Regions from separate parts of the Homo sapiens genome. Here region 1 is linked to region 2. The links come from fine-mapping of genetic effects on gene expression. A gene starts in region 2. The other region holds a variant in brackets. All regions are shown on one strand. Distances are from middle to middle. Region 1 has its middle 26 kb from the start of CD83. Region 2 holds the start of CD83 (CD83 molecule).

Evidence for each region. PIP is the estimated chance that this variant, and not a neighbour inherited with it, causes the effect.
Region 1: its variant is fine-mapped to the expression of CD83 in whole blood (TOPMed, PIP above 0.99).

Annotation. Positions count from the first base shown.
Region 1 is chr6:14,090,252-14,093,280 of GRCh38, reverse strand. No RefSeq gene overlaps it. Among named protein-coding and RNA genes, the nearest start is that of CD83, 26 kb to the left of the region's middle. The variant G/A (reference allele first, on the strand shown) is at 1,830.
Region 2 is chr6:14,116,521-14,119,282 of GRCh38, reverse strand. It overlaps CD83 (CD83 molecule), which reads right to left and starts at 1,511. Exons shown (of 5, transcript NM_004233.4): 1 at 1,435-1,511; 2 at 1,218-1,333. The coding sequence starts at 1,471. RefSeq lists cis regulatory regions at 214-714, 182-1,008, 579-1,079, 1,245-1,900, 1,084-1,900 and 1 more and silencers at 1,644-1,763, 1,891-2,185.

The DNA of each region.
Region 1 (3,029 bases), 26 kb after region 2:
GACACCTTCCTTGGTTCCTTTAGCTTCTCTACAACTTGTCCACCCTAAATCCTTCTTTTTGGTGTCCTATATTTGGGCCCCTGATCATAGTCAATAAAACGTTTTCTAGAAGTCAGTCTGACATATTACTCAATACTTGCATGTTTGAAACCTTATCAACAAGACTATAAAGTCATTGAGAACAGGGACCATGCGAGTACAGGATGGATAATAAAATACTCTTATTAGGAACATTCTGTACCGTGATCTCTCATCTTTGGCAGAATAAGGCTTCCAGATGTTAGCTGGAAACACATCACCATTGCATTCATGGAATTAGCATAAGGCTATGCACACAGTAGACATAAGACGCATTCGAATATTTATGGAGTGTCCATTGGAGAAGCAAAAGTAACTGAGTTGTCAATCAAATAAATATTTCTGATCTATTAATACTCAATGTCATATGCCTTATCTTTTTTGATAAAGATAATATTCAAATTCTCAATTCCATAGATATTGAATATAAGCATTTCTCTTTCCCAGCCAAAATACATCAATAGAAATAAGTGAGAGATAGTGAAGCCACCTATTTAAAAGGCCTGTGAATCGCTTCTCAGCCTTTGGCGAAGATTAAGTTTAAAAGGACTATGAAGCAAAACCTTGTGTAAAGCTAATGTTTACTTCCTATTTTACAGTGCTCTGTTTCATTTTTATTAATAAAATACACTTTTGTGTATGACAGCTGATCATATTTGATTTTCATATTCTCTATTTAAGACCAGAGAATATTCTTCAGAACCACATTTTTTTTCCCACAGTTTAGTTTCAAATGTAGTATAGTTCCTCTTTTTATAAAACAAGTCAGGAAGGTTTGTTTTATATTAAAGCATTCAATGAAAGGGTGTTTTTTTTTTTTTAAATACAAATCTACTTTTCATATACTGGAACTTTCCAGATGACTGGTCAGATTACTACAATCGCATGTTATATTGATCTGGAGTTCAAAAAAACACCAAAAGAACAATGGGATAAGCCTGCTTTCCTTCCAAGTATGGGCATAGCTATCAAAGCACCACAACTGATTTTGCAATATTCCAGAAATTATACGTCAAAGTGAATCTTGTTCCTTCAAATCAGCCACCTTATTCATTTATTCCAAAGAATTGCCAGTGGTCAAAACTGTGCTGAAAATCTTTTTATGATTTCCTTCAAAGCCATTTAAAAAAATATATTATTAAAGGCAGCAACTCTTTGTCCTTTGGGAATGAATACGATTTTGGAAACAGAAAAAGTCATTTGGGAACAAATTTAGTGAAAAGAGCAATCAAACTGGGTGATATAAGGAAGAAATTCAGATTTGTCCATCATCTCACAGCCCAGAGATAACCACCATGAATATCTTGGCATATTTTATGCTAGTAAGTCTCTATGTATATATTTTAACATAAATAGGATGATGTCACGTGTGCAGATTTGCATCTCCCCTTTTTCTCCCCAGTCAATATTCCCATTATTCCTATTTTACAAGGATCAGACAAGCTAAGTAACAAGCAAACAGTCATACTTCAGAAAGTGTTCTAACTTCCAACTTCTTTCAAAATGCATTGAGGCTGAAAAAAGGAGAACAGTTATACCAAAAAAAAAAAAAAGCCTGATTTTCTATTCCCTATTCCTTGGTGATAATAGCAAGAATAGTACTTAGTTATAACACCACAATGCATGACACATGAGAGAGAAACCAAGAGTGAGAGAAAAGAAAATTATGTGGTTCCAACAGAAAATAAAGAGAATGAGATGCCTTGCCCAAGTCAATCATTTATGTAGACAACGTGTGTGTGCGCCTGCAT[G/A]TGTGTGTGTGTGAACACACCTTTTATTACAAGTCACAAAAGTTTATTACCCAGTCAATGCTCGGCTATGGAGTAACATCTCTTGAAATTGAAGAAGCACTACTTAAGGCAGGACCAGAGATGATGGAATGGGTGTTTGACATGTATCAGATCTTTTCAGAAACTGAGAGGGGTCGTACTGTTTATACATGCTTTCTAGGCACACAGAAACCTAAGTCTGTTTCCCAAACTCCAAGGCTGCACAGTCAGTGAGTTCAGCGTAGCCTCTCACCACTGTGTTGGACCTCTGTGGATCCAGTTTTGGGAGCGGGGTGGGTGTGGATTTTGTCTCAAACTCTCTCTATCTGGAATGTGTTCTGTAGTCTTAAAAACAAGAGCTGAATATGCTCAATCTCCACTTTGCCCCCCAAACTGAGGCCATCTCCCCAACACCCAACAGAAGATCCTGTTAGAAATTCTCGATTTGGTCCCACACAAGTTACTGCAATCTTCCTACTAGGGTTGAGATGCCAGAAGATCCCTGTTAGGGACTGAAAGTTTGTGTCTCTCCCCTTGCCACCAAATTCATGTATCAATATGTATTAGGAGGTGGGGCCTTTGGGAAGCGATTAGGTCATGAAGGGGAAGCCCTCATGAATGAGATCAATACCCTTCTAAAAGAGGCCAGAGAGCACACTCTTGCTGCTTCTACCATGTGAGGACATAGTGAGAGGATGCCATCTATAAACCTGGAAGAAGGTCCTCACCGGGTACTGAATTTGCCAGCACCTTGATCTTGGACTTCCCAGCCTCCAGAACTGTGAGCAACGATGTCATTTATAAGCCACCCAGTCTCTAGTATTTCTGTTATAGCAGCTCGAACTAAAACTATCCCTATTTTGCCCTTTTCTGCTTAAAACTTGCTTTTTTTGTAGAGCCAGTTTAGCCTAGAGGAGAAAGTTTCAGCTTTTGAATCCTACAAATTCTCCTTTTTCCACTTCTTCACTAAGTCAAGGTTGGAGAGTGACTTCATCTGCCTCAAAATGAACTTTCTCACCTGCGATAAATATGAAGGTATCAGGACATAAAATTATCTCATAAACCACACATTTGGGAACACTCCATAAAGCCAAATCACCCCAGTTGAACCCAGAAACAGTTCCACGGATTGAGAGAAGAGACTGATAAGAATCAAGAGAGTTAATCATTGCAATATGGTTC
Region 2 (2,762 bases):
ACTTTTATACACAATACAATGCTCTGAGGCAGCAGCACCATCCCCGTCATGCATAACTCATGAAGTGCTGGGCTGAATTCACAGAGCACCTTTGCAATTTATAGGGCAAAAATTAGGTGCCGTGAAGAATACACAGAAGTATGGATACAGCCACTGCCCCCCAGGGAACTGACCATCCAGTTAGGAGACACACACACAAAGAGATCACCGCAATGATGCCTTGTACTGTTAAGTGGCCAAAGACGTACAGTTTCTTATAGTATCTTTTATGGTGGGCAGAAGAACGCCCTGCATTTTGGGGAAAGCTACAAGTGCAGAGATTTGCCCCCGTGGTAAGACAGCAAATCAGTGAGAGCTACAGAGTAAGGTTGTAATATCATATTCATTTGGGTTAAAATGGAGGTGCTGTGGTAGCAGTGGCCTGACTTAAAGAAGGACCAGTGATATCAAACAGTAGCTGCTTGGCTTTGGAATGACACCATCATTGCCATCTTAGAATCTGAGAATGTTTCAGTCAAGAGGAAACCTTGAAAAAGCCTCCTTGTCACTCAGTCCACTTACAGTAGGAGCAGCAAGGCCTGTTCTTACACATGCGGGCTCCGGCTCATGCATCCACCTGATGCTCTCAAGGCTGCCAGAGGAAGGAGGAGGAGGGCTAGGGGAGGAAGCCAAGGGTATCCCACAAAGGAGATGACCACTGATAACTACCATGGATGAAATGGCCTAAGTCACTTCTGTGTCTTAGCCTTTCCTTTCAAATTGCCCCCTCCCCCTCCCATGTATCATGGGCATCACAGTCACAAAACACAAGAAATCAGAAGTCTGGAGACATTCCCCCTGTCCAATGCCCAAATCTAGGTCCCTGTTGCTTTCTTCCTGACCTGCTGGCCCACAACCACAGGTGGCCTCCAGAATTAATCCAAATGAGAGTCTCTGCCCTTCCAAAACATCTTAAGTGGATCATTCATCTCAGGCCACCTTCAGTGACAGGAAGGGGATTGAGGTCTGCGGAGAGCAAAACCTAATTCGGCCCTGTACCTGGATGCGGATGGGGTGGGGGAGGCGCGACGGGAGGCTGGGTACTCCAAGTTCAGCTGCGGGAGACGCCCCTCGCCCCCACCTGGCAGCCACAGAGGGTCGCCAGCCTAGGGGAGATGGTTCCTGCTGTCTTCAAATGAGCCCACCAAACCCCAGCCCGTGGGTATCGCAGCACCTACCTTGACCCAGGAGACCGTGTAGGGAACCTGCGGATCCCAGGGGGCGGTGCAGGGCAAGTCCACATCTTCGGAGCAAGCCACCTTCACCTCCGGCGTCGCGGGAGCCAGGCTGTAGGCTACAAGAAAGAGAGAGCGCGTCGTGAGCAAGCGACCGACGGGAGGGGGTGTCGTGGAGGGGCGGGGGGCGACAGGCGAGACAGGCGCTCGCGAGCCCTACCGCAGCTCAGGAGCAGAAGCTGGAGGCCGCGCGACATGGCTGGAGCGCTGCGCCGCTGCCACGAGCTGCAGAGCTGTGGCGCGCGGGCGCCGGCTGCCCTTTTATGCCCGCGCGTTCGGGAACTTCCCTGCGCGCCAGCCCGGGGGATTCCCCGGCGGGCAGCGGAAGCGGGTGGCGCGCCCTCCTAGTCCCGCTTAGGCCGGGGCGCCCCCGTCCCCGCCCCCTTCGCCCCCGTCCCCGCCCCCGTCCCCGCCCCCGTCGCACCCGCCGCCCTCGCCGCGTGCGCGTCCCCGCCCCCGCGCGCCCGGGCCGGGCGCCCCGAGTTCGCGTCGCTGCTGCGGCTGGCAGCGGCGACAGCAATCCCCGCGTGACGCCCAGCGCTGGGGGCTTTGCAGACCGCGCTCGCGCGCGTGACGCTGCCGTTGACCCGCAAAAGGAAGCCGGGAACCGGGCCATCCGAGCGGGATCTGCCCATTTTACGGAGGCCAAACCAGATTCCGAGAGGGTGGGCAACTTCCTCAGAAGCCCAGCCTGTCCTTGGGAACGCACTGGTGAACCCAAGTCCTCACTCTTCTCCAGAATCTGTGATAATCAAAGGCGCGTTAGATTTCCATGGAAACATACAAGTCTGTAGTACTTGGCTCCCTGCCTTCCCCGGGAGGTTATCAGTCAGTACCGTCCTGTTTAAATTATATCACCAAAGGAGAGTGTCTCCTATTAAAATAATAATTACACGCATACACAACATTTTTGGAAAAGAAAATTCTAGAAGACAATGAAATCACCTGTAATTCATCCAGGAAGTAACTTCAGTTAACATTTTTTTATATTATAAAATGTTTATAACATAACATAACGTAAAATATTTATAACATTTGTCAGTGCACAGATTGGTATTTTTAATGGTTTATTCTTCCTGCTATCTTGTAACCTACTTTCTTTTAGCTTAATAATTTGCAAGCGGTTCCACATCATTAAAAACTTCCAACAGCATCATTTTGGTCCATTGTTCAGTTGCACCATAAATTAGAATCGATTAGTGTTAGACATACAGGTTGTTTCTTTTTGTATTACTAATATTAGAAACAATACTGTGATTGCTATGGGAAACTTCAGTGTAGATAAATCTTTGCTCTAAAATTGCTTATTTTCTTAGAATAAATACCTCAAGGAAATTGTGCTAGGTGAAGGGGAGTTTCCAATTTTGTCAAATATTGCCAAAAAATTACCTGCAAGGAGGTGTCTTCAATCTATATTCCCATCTGCAAAGAGAGTGCCTGTTTGCCAACACAAACTGTTATCCAACCTTTCTATCTTTGTCCATCCAA